Linked DNA regions of Homo sapiens. The protein of the gene in region 1 purifies or fractionates together with the protein of each later gene. This does not show direct contact. Each region holds a gene or a part of one and is shown in the gene's direction. Other genes may lie near its edges.

Region 1 (7,027 bases):
GGAGAATCGCTTAAGCCCAGGAGGCAGAGGTTGCAGTGAGACATCTCACCACTGTATTCCAGCCTGGGTGACAGAGTGAGAGCTTGTATTAAAAAAAAAAAAAAAAAATATGTGGCAGGGAGGGCAGGGAGGGCAGGGCCTGGCCTGGGGCAGGAGAGGTGATGCTATTGTCATTGACAGTAACTAACATGGTCTGTAAGAGAGACGAAAATTCATGTCGCAGGTGGAGGGACAGCCGTGTGATATGGTGGTAGTTGTAGTCATCGATATTTAATTTTGTCATTAAAAATAAAAAGTAAACCAGGCACAGTGTCTCATGAGTATAGTCCCAGGTGAGTGGATCACCTGAAGTCAGGAGTTCAAGACCAGCCTGGCCAACATGGAGAAACCCCATGTATCTACTAAAAATACAAAAATTAGCTGGGCGTGGTGGCGAGTGCCTGTGATCCCAGCTACTTGGGAGGCTGAGGCAGGAGAACACTTAAACCTGGGAGGCAGAGGTTGCCGTGAGCTGAGATTGCACCACTGCATTCCAGCCTGTGCGACAAGAGCGAAACTCCATCTCAAAAAAAGAAAAAAAAAAAAGTAGCTGAAAATCAATGTTATCAGAAGGTCAGTGGAATGCTTCATCATCACATGTATGTCAGTTTAAGGGGATGACCTAGTCTCTCAGTGCCTGAGTCTCTTTCTTTACGAAGCAGGAAAGAGGATCTGCTCTTACGACCTCATAAAGGGGTCGTGAAAAGGCCAGTGCCAGTGCCCAGGAAATGCTTTTAGCCTTTTGGCAAATGATGTCATTTAGTACAGCATCAACATAACCTTTCCTGGTACAAGCTGGAGTGTCACTCTCAAGCCATTTGTCATGACATCAGGCATGCTTCCATTCCATTTGGGTTTGCTTATTGAAACTCTTCGGGGGGAAAAAAACAGCCTCCCTGAGTGCTGAGAAAATGCCATTCTTCACCTGGGCAGCAGGTGCGTTCCTGAAAGGCTGTGAGTAAATCACATGTTGAGAAAGCAAACTCTTCTGGCCCATGGAGTTATGTCCTAATTCCTGAGGTGCCTCTCTGCTCTCATTGCCATCAAGTAGACAATATTTGACCAAAATTCCTGGAAATATAGGTTGGGTGGAGTGACTTATGCCTGTAATCCCAGAACTTTGGGAGGCCGAGGCAGGAGGATTGCTTGAGCTCAGGAGTTTGAGACCAGCCTGGGTAATAGAGCGAGACCTCGTCTCTGCTAATTAAAAAAAAAAAAAAGCCAAGCATGGTGGCATGCGCCTATAGTCCCAGCTACTCGGGAGGCTGAGGTGGGAGGATCACTTGAGCCTGGGAAGTTGAGGTTGCAGCCCCAGCCTGAGCAACAGAGTGAGACCCTATCTCAAAAAAATAAAAAATTCCTGGAAATATGCAAAAGTCATGGTCCTTCATGGTGGTCCAGAGTCACGTGGAGGTACAAAAGCCCCTCCCCATAGATTCAGAAATGACCTCTTTGGGGTGGGGGGTGAGGGAACAGAGGTGTTGTCTGAGGATGTCATGCTCCAGATGACAGTCTTTTTTTTTTTTTTTGAGATGGAGTCTTGCTGTCTCCCAGGCTGGAGCGCAGTGGCACGATCATGGCTCACTGCAAGCTCCGCCTCCTGGGTTCACGCCATTCTCCTGCCTCAGCCTCCCGAGTAGCTGGGACTACAGGCGCCCGCCACCACGCCCAGCTAAATTTCTGTATTTTTAGTAGAGACAGGGTTTCACCATGTTAGCCAGGATGGTGTCGATCTTCTGACCTCGTGATCTGCCTGCCTCGGCCTCCCAAAGTGCTGGGATTACTGGTGTGAGCCACTTCGCCCGGCACAGATGAGTCTTGTGCTCACCTGCTGTGATCTGCCACACTAAAAGTTGAGTGACTCCAAAGAATCACTTTGCTATAAGAAGTCTTTTTCTTTTCTTTTTTTTTTTTTTTTTTTTTGACGGAGTCTTACTCTGTCATACAGGTAGGAGTACAGTGGCGCCATCTCAGCTCACTGCAACCTCCACCTCGCAGGTTCAAGCGATTCTCCTGCCTCAGCCTCCCACATAGCTGGGATTACAGGCGCTTGCCACCATGCTCAGCTAATTTTTGTATTTTTAGTAGAAACAGGGTTTTGCTACGTTGGCCAGGCTGGTCTCAAACTCCTGACCTCAAGCGACCTGCCCACCTCAGCCTCCCAAAGTGCTGGGACTACAGCCATGAGCCCTGAGCCCAGCTGGAACGGTCTTTTCCTAACCCATGTATTTGCACTTCCTGGTCCTCTTGGGTGCTGGCTGTACCCCAGCTACAGGTTGTGCCGCCCAGGGTGTTCTGGATGGGAACGGAATTCACCAACTGTGTGGCCTCCCTCTGCTTACATGTCCTCCTCCTTGTCTTTCCAGATGTTCAAAGGGCCTGAGAAGGATATAGAGTTTATCTACACGGCCCCCTCCTCGGCAGTGTGTGGGGTCTCGCTGGACGTTGGAGGAAAGAAGGAATATCTCATTGCAGGTGTGTATGAGTGGGGCCATCAGCCGGAGGCTGGCACAGAAGTGGGGCTGTTCCTAGACGCGGTCCAGGGCTCGTTTCCCAGGCTCGGGGGGTGGGGAGGCGGAGTAGCTGAGGAACAGTGAGGCAGGGTACGGAGCCCTCTCGGCCACTTCCCGTCAGAGAATGCTAGTGAATGTTCACTACCTGCCAATTTCCTGGGAAATTTGAGATTGGTGGACAAAAAAAAGGGAGCATTTTTGCCTTTTGTTCCTAAAAGGGAGGCGAGTGCGGGATGCTGGAGACATGCAGGGCAGAGAAACCCTTTCTGCCGTCGGGAGGGCCAAAAGCTCGCGTAACATCTGTGGATACTATGCACGAGACCTGCTTGACTTATTCATTCATCTGTCTCCTTTTTTTATTGTGGTAAAATAATACGTAACAAAATGTAGCCATGTTAATTAACCATTTTCTTTCTTTCTTTCTTTCTTTCTTTCTTTTTTTTTGAGACAGAGTGTCGCTCTGTCGCCCAGGCTGGAGTGCAGTGGTGCGATCTTGGCTTACTGCAACCTCCACCTCCTGGGTTCAAGCGATTCTCCTGCCTCAGCCTCCCGAGTAGTTGGGATTACAGGCACACGCCACCACGCCCAGCTAATTTTTGTATTTTTAGTAGAGATGGGGTTCTACCGTGTTGGTCAGGCTGGTCTCGAACTCCTGACCTCAGGTGATCCACCCACCTCGGCCTCCCAAAGTGGCAGGATTACAGGCGCGAGCCACCGCGCCCGGCCAACCATTTTCAAGTGTACACTTCAGTGGCATTAGATACATTCGCTATTGTGCAACCATCACCACCATCTGTCTCCACATCTTCCCAAACCAAAACTCCGTCCCCGTTAAACACTAACTCCCCCTTCTCTCTTCCTCAGCCTTGGCCCACCTCCATTTTACTTTCTGTCTCTGTGGATTTGACTACTCCAGGGGCCTCACATGGGTGGAACCCTGCAGTGTTTGTCCTCTCTGTCTGGCTTATTTCAGTAGCATCATGTTTTCAAGGTTCGTTCACGTTACAGCATACATCAGAATTTCCTTACTCTTTTTTTTGTTTTTGAGACAGAGTCTCGCTCTATTTCCCAGGCTGGGGTGCAATGGCACTATCTCGGCTCACTGCAACCTCCGCTTCCCAGGTTCAAGCGATTCTCCTGCCTCAGCCTCTCAAGTAGCTGGGATTATAGGCACACGCCACCACACCTGGCTAATTTTTTTTTGTATTTTTAGTACAGACAGGGTTTCACCACGTTGACCAGGCTGGTCTCCAACTTCTGACCTCAGGTGATCCGCCCACCTCAGCCTCCCAAAGTGTTGGGATTACAGGCGTGAGCCACCACACCCGGCCCAAAATGTCCTTACTTTTTAAGGATGAATAATATTTCATTGTATGAATGTAGCACATTTTGTTTATTGTTGCATCTCTTTGTTTATAGTTTTTTGGTTTGTTTTTTTTTTTTTTGAGACAAAGTCTTGCTCTGTTTCCCAGGCTGGAGTGCGATCATGACTCACTGCAACCTCGATCTCCTGGGGTCAAGTGATCCTCTCGCCTCAGCCTCCCAAAGTGCTGAGATCAACTACAGGTGTGTGCCACCACACCCAGCTAATTTTTTTATTTTTTGGTAAAGAAGTCTCACCATGTTGCCCAGGCTGGTCTTGAACTCCGAGGCTCAAGCAATCCTCCTGCCTCAGCCTCCCAAAGTACTGGGATTATAGGCGTGAGCCACTGTGCCCAGCCTATATTTTTATTCCTAAGTAAAATTATTTTCCCTTACTTCCTTCTACGGCCTCCTCTGCTTGCCCAGCTAGGCTGAACCACAGGAGGCCAGGACAGGATTCTCAATCTCAGCACTATTAACATTTGGGGATGGACCATTCTTTGTTGTGGGGGCCTACCTTATGCATTATAGGATATTCAGCTGCATCCCTGGCCCCCACCCTCTACATGCCACAGCACCCGCTCCAGTCGCGGGGTCTCTGGACATTGCCACATGTGCCCAGGGGAGGTGGGGTAGATTGCCCCTGCTTGAGAACCACTGGGCTCAAAGAGCTTTCTGCAGTGATGGAAGCGGTCTCTGCACCATCCAGTCCAGCAGCCCCCAGCCTTGTGGCTCATGAGCACCCGAGATATGGCTAGTGCAGCCGAGGAGCTGCATTTTAAATTTTATTTCATTTCAAGTAATTTTAGTATAAATGTAAACAGCCACATGTGGCCGGCAGCCGCAGTCTAGCATGGCACTGACTCAGCCAGTTAAGGAACATTATTCCCCTCCTCCCTGGGGAAGTAGGAATCTGATCACAAACTTAAGAAAAAAAGAATAGACAAGGCCTGGTGCAGTGGCTCATGGCTGTAATCCCAGCAATGTAGGAGGCTGAGGCGGGCGGATTGCTTGAGGTCAGGAGTTCAAGACCAGCCTTGCCAACATGGTAAAACCCTGTCTGTACTAAAAATACAAAAATTAGCTGGGCGTGGTGGCAAGTGCCTGTAGTCCCAGCTACTCAGGAGGCTGAGGCATGAGAATCATTTGAACCCAGGAGGCAGAGATTGCAGCAAGCTGAGATCACGCCACTGTACTCCAGCCTGGGTGACTGAGCAAGACCCCATCTCACAAAAAAAAAAGAGAAAAGAAAGAAGAGACAAGACAATTCCCCTAGCCTGGTACTATAGTTTGTTCCAAAAGGCAACTGTAATCATAAACATATACTCCAAATCCAAATATCCATGATTGGGGGATTTTCTTCTGGTTTAGGTGACATGTACTTTTTTCCCTTCTAAAAATCAATGTGTGCTTAGTGAGCACCTGTTAGGTGCCCAGCCCCGTGTTAGAGACAATGGGAGATTCCCACGGTGAGATCCTTGGCTCTGGTCATCATGGAGCACACAGATGTTCCGAATGGGGAGACTGGAAAAGAAAGAAAATAGATTTTGCTTGTGGAGAATTGTGAATAGTAAGTGAATGCTTAGAAGGTGCAAAAGGGGCCGGGCGAGGTGGCTCACGCCTGTAATCCTAGCACTTTGGGAGGCCGAGACGGGCAGATCATGAGGTCAGGAGATTGAGACCATCCTGGCTAACACAGTGAAACCCCGTTTCCACTGAAAATACAAAAAAAAAATTAGCCGGGCGTGGTGGCGGGCGCCTGTAGTCCCAGCTACTCAAGAGGCTGAGGCAGGAGAATGGCGTGAACCCGGGAGGCGGAACTTGTAGTGAGCCGAGATCGTGCCACTGCACTCCAGTCTGGGCGACAGAGTGAGACTCCATCTCAAAAAAAAAAAAAAAAAAAGAAGGTACAAAAGGAAGAGAGACTCTCACAGGTCCAAGGGTCTAGACAGACTTGCTGCTGGAAGAAGGTGGTGTCCTTGCCTATGGATGGGGAGGAGGTCATTGCAGGGAGGAAGATGCAGGGCTGTGAGTTGGGCAGGGAAGACTCCTGTTATCTCCCCTTGGGTAAGATCTTCCCTCCCTTCCTTAACATGCTCACAGCTCCTGCTTTGCTGGGTATCTCGGTCATCAAGACTTCTATCCCTCTCCTTGGGGATAATAGGAGACTTCCCCCCCTTTTAAGATGCATTTCTGGACTTCCTAAAATGTTTTATTATGAGCACTTTTCTTATTCTCATTCCAAGACAGAGTCTCCCTCTGTTGCCCAGGCTGGAATGCAGTGGTGTGATCTTGGCTCACAGCAACCTCTGCCTCCTGGGCAATTCTCGTGCCTCAGCCACCCAAGTAGCTGGGATTACAGATGTGTGCCCCCATACCTGGCTAATTTTTGTATTTTTAGTAGATACGGGGTTTCACCATGTTGGCCAGGCTGGTCTTGAACTCCTGACTTCAGGTGATCTGCCCGCCTAGGCCTTCCAAAGTGCTGGGATTACAGGCGTGAGCCACCGCGCCCGGCCTACAATTCAGTGGTTTTAGTATGTCACAGAGTTCTGCAACCATCACTACAGTCAAAAAGAAATCCTGTATTCTTGAGCTATTACCCTCCTGACTCCCCTCCCCCTCCCCCAGCCCTAAGCAGCCACTGGTATACTTCCCGTCTCTATAGATTTCTCTATGCTGGGCTTTCCTGGGAACGGAATCATACGTGTGACCCTGTGTAACCGGCTTCTTTCGTGTTTCCAAGGGTCATCCATGTTACAGTGTGTATCAGAATTTCATTCCTTTCTATGACTGAGTATTCCACTGTATGGATAGACCACGTTTTGTTTATCCGGTCATCATTTGATGTGCATTTGGGTTGTTGCCACCGTTTGGCCATTGTGACAAATACTGCAATGAACATTGGTGTGTGAGATTTTGCAGGGACCTGTTCTCATTTTTCCTGGGTGTATCCCTGGCAGTGGAATTGGTGGGGTCGGGGGTGGGGAGGGGTTGGGTGACTTTAGGTTTAACCATTTGAGGAGCTGGCAGACCGTTTTCCAAAGCAGCTGCACCATTTTACACGCCCAGTATTATCTATGATTTTTACAATAAGAAAAAAAAAATCAAAT
Region 2 (7,027 bases), on another chromosome or scaffold:
CCATCATTGATTCAGAAAAGTAAGACTTTTTAAAAAACTTCCTGTTTTGAAATATGTAAGGGTATTTTAACATTAAAAAAAAGGATGGTTGCAATTTCAGAATAAAGATAGGCATTTACATTTTAAAAATGTTTCATGATTACATTTTGTTTTAAAACGTTTTAAAGAATGTGGTAAGAATAAATAGGATTTTGTCTGTGATGATTTTATGTATAATGAGCAGATTGCATTGACACTCTTGTATCTTTTCTGCCATTAACAGAAAAGGCAGCTTGTAAATCTAAAATGATTGAAATCCAAACTCTAAATCATTCAGATTTAACTTTTCTTTTTTTCTTTTTCTTTTTTTTTTTGAGGCAGAGGCTCGCTCTGTTGCCCAGGCTGGAGTGCAGTGGCACAATCTTGGCTTACTGCAGCCTCCTCCTCCCGGGTTCAAGTGATTCTCCTGCCTCAGCCTCCTGGGTAGCTGGGACTATAGGTGTGAGCCACCACGCCCAGCCAGATTTAATTTCATTTATTGCTCCTTTTTGCCGGGTGCAGTGGCTCACACCTGTAATCCCAGCACTTTGGGAGGCCAAAGTGGGCGGATCACCTGAGGTCAGGAGTTCCAGACCAGCCTGGCTAACATAGCAAAACCCCTTCTCTACTGGAAAAAAACACAAAAATTCGCCGGGTGTGGTAGCGCAAGCCTGTATTCCCAGCTACTTGGGAGGCTGAGGCAGGAGAATCGCTTGAACCTGGGTGTTGGAGGTTGCAGTAAGCCAAGATCACGCCATTGCACTCCAGCCTGGGTGACAGAATGAAACTCCAGCCTGGGTGACAGAATGAGACTCCATGTCAAAAAAAAAAAAAAATTTTTTTTTTCATTTATTACCCCCTTTTAAACACACTACCTAAAAAATAGGTAGTGCTCAGCATTTGGAATAGCTATGTATTACTCCCATATATCAAAATTTCATTTGAAAAGTAGATAAAAGTATTTTAAAAGATTCTCTAATTCTGAAAGATTGTCTTTGTAAAGATTAGTGTAATAACTTGTAAATTTTGACTTTTGAGGTGCTTGTGAAGGTATTTATGATTAGACTGTTTAAGAGATGAATAGGGCCGGGTGTGGTGGCTCACGCCTGTAATCCCAGCACTTTGGGAGGCTGAGGTGGGTAGATCACAAGGTCAGGAGTTCGAGACCAGCCTGGCCAATGTGGTGAAACCCTGTCTCTACTAAAAATACAAAAAATAGTTGGGTGTGGTAGCACATACCTGTAGTCCCAGCTACTCGGGTGGCTGAGGCAGAAGAATCGCTTGAACCTGGGAGGCAGAGGTTGCAACGAGCTGAGATCGCGCCACTGCACTTCAGCCTGGGCACCCAAGTGAGACTCCATCTCAAAAAAAAAAAAAAAAAAAAAAGGAGATGAATAGGATAGAATAATTTTTTTTTGCTTGAATTTCTAGTTTACTTACATACATTGTATTCATTGCTCTTTTCTCTTTTCTTTTTTTTTTTAAAGGAGTATGGATGTGTCCAACAGCCAAAAACTCAAGAAAGTAAATTGAAAATTGGTGGTGTGTCTTCAGTTAATGAGAGACCTATTGGTAAGAAATGGAACTGTATAAGTTAGTTACAATTAATTTGCTTATTCTGACTTTTAAAATTGAGGGAAAGCATCTTTTCATGTATGTCTTTCTCTTTCTTTAGAGCTGTGTTTTTTCAAACTGTGAGTAGCTGGTTTTCAGCAGCGTTTTAAAAAATAGAGTAAGATTATATCAGAATATGATATGTGTAGTAAGGAAACATATTGTTTCATAAAACTTCTGTTTCAGTGATTAAATTGTACATACATCCCCACGTTTACAAACATATGTATGTGAGAACTGGGTTATAATATTAAATGTATTTCTTGCGTTGAGTAATGGTTAAAAAAAAATTGAAACCTCTGTTTTAGAGCTCTTATTGCCTCATTAACTGGATTTCAAGATTGGGAATTTGTCCTGAAAAAGAGAGACTGGGCTGGGTTTAGTGGCTAACACCTGTAATCTCAGCAACTTGGGAGGCTGAGGCAGGAGGATCGCTTGAGCTCAGGTGTTTGAGACCAGTCTGGGCAACATACCTTATCTTTGCTAAAAATTAAAAAAAAATTAGCTGGGTGTGGTGGCATGTGCCTGTAGTCCTAGCTACTCAAGAGGCTGAGGCGGGAGGACTGGTTAATCCTGGGAGTTTGAGGCTTCAGTGAGCCTTGATTGCACCACTGCACTCCAGCCTGGGTGACAGTGAGACCGTGTCTCAGAAAAAGAAAAAAGAGAGAGAGAGAGAGAGACTGAGACTGTATATGCATTAGTATTGATACTAAAACTTTTTTTATTTTGTTTTGATAGCCCAGCAGTTGAACCCAGGCTTTCAGCTTTCTTTTGCATCATCTGGCCCAAGTGTGTTGCTTCCTTCAGTTCCAGCTGTTGCTATTAAGGTTTTTTGTTCTGGTTGTAAAAAAATGCTTTATAAGGGCCAAACTGCATATCATAAGACAGGATCTACTCAGCTCTTCTGCTCCACACGATGCATCACCAGACATTCTTCACCTGCCTGCCTGCCACCTCCTCCCAAGAAAACCTGCACAAACTGCTCGAAGTATAAAATTCTTAACATCCCTTTTTACTTTACCTTTTTTTTAGTGTGTATATTGTTTAGTTCAAACATACTGTTGATACTTTAAATCTCTTCAGCATGTATCTGTAGAAATAACTTTTTAGTTAATGGAAGAATTCACCAATTTTAAAGTTTTGCAACATTAAATAAGTGACTTGGTGTTAGAATATTGCCTAAACCAGTTTTCTATCACTTTAAATTTTACTATGGAAAGAAATAACAAATGACATGTGGGAATTGCAGGACTATCCTGTAATTGTAGACACCCACCATTTAAATTTATTTAACAGTTATCTTGAAAGCTATTGGGTATAGCATAAAATAATATCACTCTTTTAATAGTATACAAAAGCTATTTAATTCTTTAAAAAGTAAAAACTCTACATGGTCGCAAAAATGTGTTTATTTCTAATGTCCTTGTGGGGTCATTGTTGCTTTACAATAATGCTTAGATGCAGAGAGAGGAAAAAACAGCAACAAAGTCACATAAATCTTTCCCTGACTTAGTACATTTGAAGGATTTGGCATATTTTGCCTATTTCTGTGGTAGTGTAATTTGAGGAATACAGTGTGTTGTTAATAGTCACTACAGGCAAAAAACAGTAAGAGCTTGCTTTTAAATTGTGGCTCTGTCATTTATCTCTGTGACTTCGGGCTAGATGTTTAACTTTCTAAGCCTCCATTTCTCATCAGTAAATAATAGTTGCTTCCTAGGACTTTAATGAGACAGTGTTAGCAAATGGCCTAGCACATAGCAAGTACTTAAAAAATGGAATCCTGTTATTATTAATAATAAAAATTATATCGTGCGATTATTTATAATTAACATAAATAAATATAATAAATATATGTGTATATAATACATATTACTATGTATACTTAACATATCACTTGTAGGCCCCTATTTTGTCTTTGGCTGTGTTTATCTGCTTTGTGTCTTGACTTAAACTATTTAAAAGTAGATCCTGCTATATGGAAATTTCCAAGTAAAGAGGAGAGAGGATTTTTTTTTTTCTTTGTTGCCCATGGTAGAGTGATCACAGCTCACTGCAGCCTTGAACTCCCCGGGCTCAGATGATCCTCCCACCTCAGCCTTTCAAATAGCTGGGACCACAGGCGCATACCACCATGCCCGACTAATTTTTGTATTTTTTTGTAGAGATGGTTTTGCTATGTTGCCCAGGCTGGTCTCAAACTCCTGGGCTCAAGCAATTAGCCTGCCTCAGCCTCCTAAAGTGCTGGGACTATTGGTGTGAGCCATCACATGTGGCCAGGAGAGAGGAATTTTAAAATATTTATATACTCTAAATTAGTTTGTTGCAAAATACCATTCTAATTAATGCTTTTATGTCATTCTCATGAAACTAATCTGAAAGAGTAAACTTAGTTTTCTATTTTTAGATATTGTTTCAACATACCAAATACCAAAATAAAATTAAATAATTTTAAAGAACATAACACAACTTATACATCCAAATGCCTATTGTTTTCTTAAAAGTAGTCACCCCCGTCAGTGACTTTTTAGCATAAGGTTAGGAGACAGATTCTTATCTTTTCAGCATGCATTTGATTTTTACAAATTTTCAAAGGCTGCTTGATACCTTAATCAGGCCAATATATTAGCTAATTAAATTAAGTCATACTGTTAAAACATGATATTTATAAAATTAAAAGTTAAAAAATAGTCTAAGGGTTTATCTTAAGTTTTATCTTAAAAAAATTAGAAAAATGTTTTGAGCTATGTTATTGTTGGAAGGTGTGGTTTTTCTACGGTAAATGTTACGATATAACACTCATTTGCATGTGTAAGGTTCAGAGTACACTTATAATTTATGTGCACAGATTTTCATTATAAAGTCATTCTCTTTGATTTACATATTTTTACTTGCTATTTTTGTACTTATTATGCCACTGGCAGATTCACCTTATTAAGTGAAACTCTTTATTGCTCTGTTTTCAGTAGAAAAATCACTTTTCAAAATTAATACTTCATCTGTGTATAAGCATATTCTTTTGGTTTCTAAGATTTGCTGTCATATTTTTAAAGTTGAGTTTTAAAGAATTAAAATAATTTTTGTTGTTGTTATTTTCTCATGGTTTACCATTGAATATACCTGTATAATAAAGGTGCAGGATGGGAGGCAGGATAGTGGAATAATTAATTCCATAGACTAGAATCAGATTGCCTGGATTAGTATTTCAGCTTTATTGCCTACTAGCAATATGACTTTGACAAGCTATTTAACCTCTCATTCAGTTTCCTCATCTGTAAAGTGGCAGTTACAGTAATACTTAACCTTATAGTGGTTTGGGGATTTTTTTTTTTTTTTGAGACACGGTCTCACTCTGTCACCCAGGCTGGAGTGCAGTGGCGTGATCCCAGCTCACTGCAGCCTCTACCTCCCGGGCTCAAGCAATCCTCCCACCTCAGCATCCTGAGTAACTGAGACCATGGGCATGAGCCAGCATGCCCTGCTAATTAAAAAATTTTTTTTATAGAGATCGGGTCTTGCTCTGTTGCCCAGGCTGGAGTGCAGTGGCATGATCATGGCTCACTGGAGTCTTGAACTCCCTGGGCTCAAGCAATCCTTCTGCCTTGGCCTTCCAAAGTGCTAGGATTATGGGGGTGAGCCACTGCACTCCATCATTTTTGTGGTATTTAAATTGGGTAATTTGAGTAAAGAGAATAATGCTTGGCACATAGTAATTACTCAACACACTTATTGTAGTATATATTATTGCCATTATTATTTACTTTGTGGCCTGCACTAGTGTTTATAATTAGTGACTATTTCCTTTAGTTTTTATACTTGTCAGAAGAATGGCAATACTTAACCTCTGTTTTACCAGGGTATTGCTATTTGTGCTTATTGCAATAATTAGCTCTTACAAATTGGCTCTAGGAGTCTCACAGAACCACCCAATTATTTTTGTTCTTCCTGTCTCGTTCTTGTTTCCATCTGTCCTCTGATACAAAGCCTTAACAGCCCTTTTGTCATATATCATGCTTATTTTTTGTCTTCTGTTAGCTCATTTGTTTCTCAAAATCTTGCACTTTTAATTTTTAAACATTCATTTATTGTCTTGGCTGGACACGGTGGCTTATGCCTGTAATCCCAACACTTTGGGAGGCTGACGCAGGCGGATCGCGAGGTCAGGAATTTGAGACCAGCGTGGCCAATATGGCGAAACCCCGTCTGTACTAAAAATACAAAAATTAGCCTGGCATGGTGGCACGTGCTGGTGTCCCAGCTACTCGAACCGGAGGCTGAGACAGGAGGATCGCTTGAACCCAGGAGGTGGAGATTGCAGTGAGCCGAGATCGTGACACTGCACTCCAGCCTGGGCAGCAGAGCGAGACTCCGTCTCACAAAAAAAAAAAAAAAAAAGAAAGAAAAAATTCATTTATTGTCTCATTTCAGTTCTACTTTGGGCAGCCTCTGGCTAATGAGAGAACCAGTGTCTTGTGGTCTGGAGTTGTGGGATGGACACTGGTCCCATTGGCTATAGCAGATGAAACTTGGTTGGGGCTGGAAGCCTTCCTATTTTTGTCTTCAGCATCTGGCTGGCCACATATATATATATATATATTTTTTTTTTTTTTTTTTTTTGAGATGGAGTCTAGCTCTGTTGCCAAGGCTGGGGTGCAGTGGCACAATCTCGGCTCACTGCAACCTCCACCTCCCGGGTTCAAGTGATTCTCCTGCCTCAGCCTCCCGAGTAGCTGGGATTACAGGCGCCCACCACCACGCCCATCTAGTTTTTGTATTTTTAGTAGAGACGAGGTTTCACCATGTTGGCCAGGCTGGTCTCGAACTCCTGACCTCATGATCCGCCCACCTCGGCCTCCCAAAGTGATGGGATTACATGCATGAACCACCGCACCTGGCCCTGGCTGGCTATATTTTAAATATAATTCACTCTTGACAAATTTATGAATTAGATATTATAAGCCCCATTTTATACATGAAGAAATTGAGATAGTAATTACATCATTCATTGTCACTCACCTGATAAATAGCAGAACTCATCAAACCCAGGTTTGCAGATTCCTTATCCTTTTTCTACCATACAGTACCTGCCCTTAGTAAGTGTTATTTCACCTCACAAAGAGGAGGAAGTTACAGTTGTGAAGAATACATTTCATTTTTACCTTTGTTATTTATTTTTAGAGACATTTTAAATCCTAAGGATGTGATCACAACTCGCTTTGAGAATTCCTATCCTAGCAAAGATTTCTGCAGCCAATCATGCTTGTCATCTTATGAGCTAAAGAAAAAACCTGTTGTTACCATATATACCAAAAGCATTTCAACTAAGTGCAGTATGTGTCAGAAGAATGCTGATGTAAGTTACATTTTACTTTTATTGGGATTCTGCTGAAAGAGA

What was found. Proteins that work in one complex are often made in the same cells at the same time.
Region 2: the proteins of TIMP2 (region 1) and ZMYM6 purify together in Homo sapiens (affinity purification with mass spectrometry; 3 studies listed by BioGRID and IntAct, with this or other methods). This does not show direct contact.

What each region holds. Positions count from the first base shown.
Region 1 is NC_000017.11:78,866,385-78,873,411, reverse strand, and holds part of TIMP2 (metalloproteinase inhibitor 2 precursor), read left to right. Parts: intron 1-2,405; coding exon 2,406-2,514; intron 2,515-5,181; exon of another isoform or gene 5,182-5,438; intron 5,439-7,027. UniProt on the Homo sapiens protein: Complexes with metalloproteinases (such as collagenases) and irreversibly inactivates them by binding to their catalytic zinc cofactor. Known to act on MMP-1, MMP-2, MMP-3, MMP-7, MMP-8, MMP-9, MMP-10, MMP-13, MMP-14, MMP-15, MMP-16 and MMP-19.
Region 2 is NC_000001.11:35,014,946-35,021,972, reverse strand, and holds part of ZMYM6 (zinc finger MYM-type protein 6), read left to right. Parts: intron 1-1,505; coding exon 1,506-1,590; intron 1,591-2,370; coding exon 2,371-2,620; intron 2,621-6,810; coding exon 6,811-6,985; intron 6,986-7,027. UniProt on the Homo sapiens protein: Plays a role in the regulation of cell morphology and cytoskeletal organization.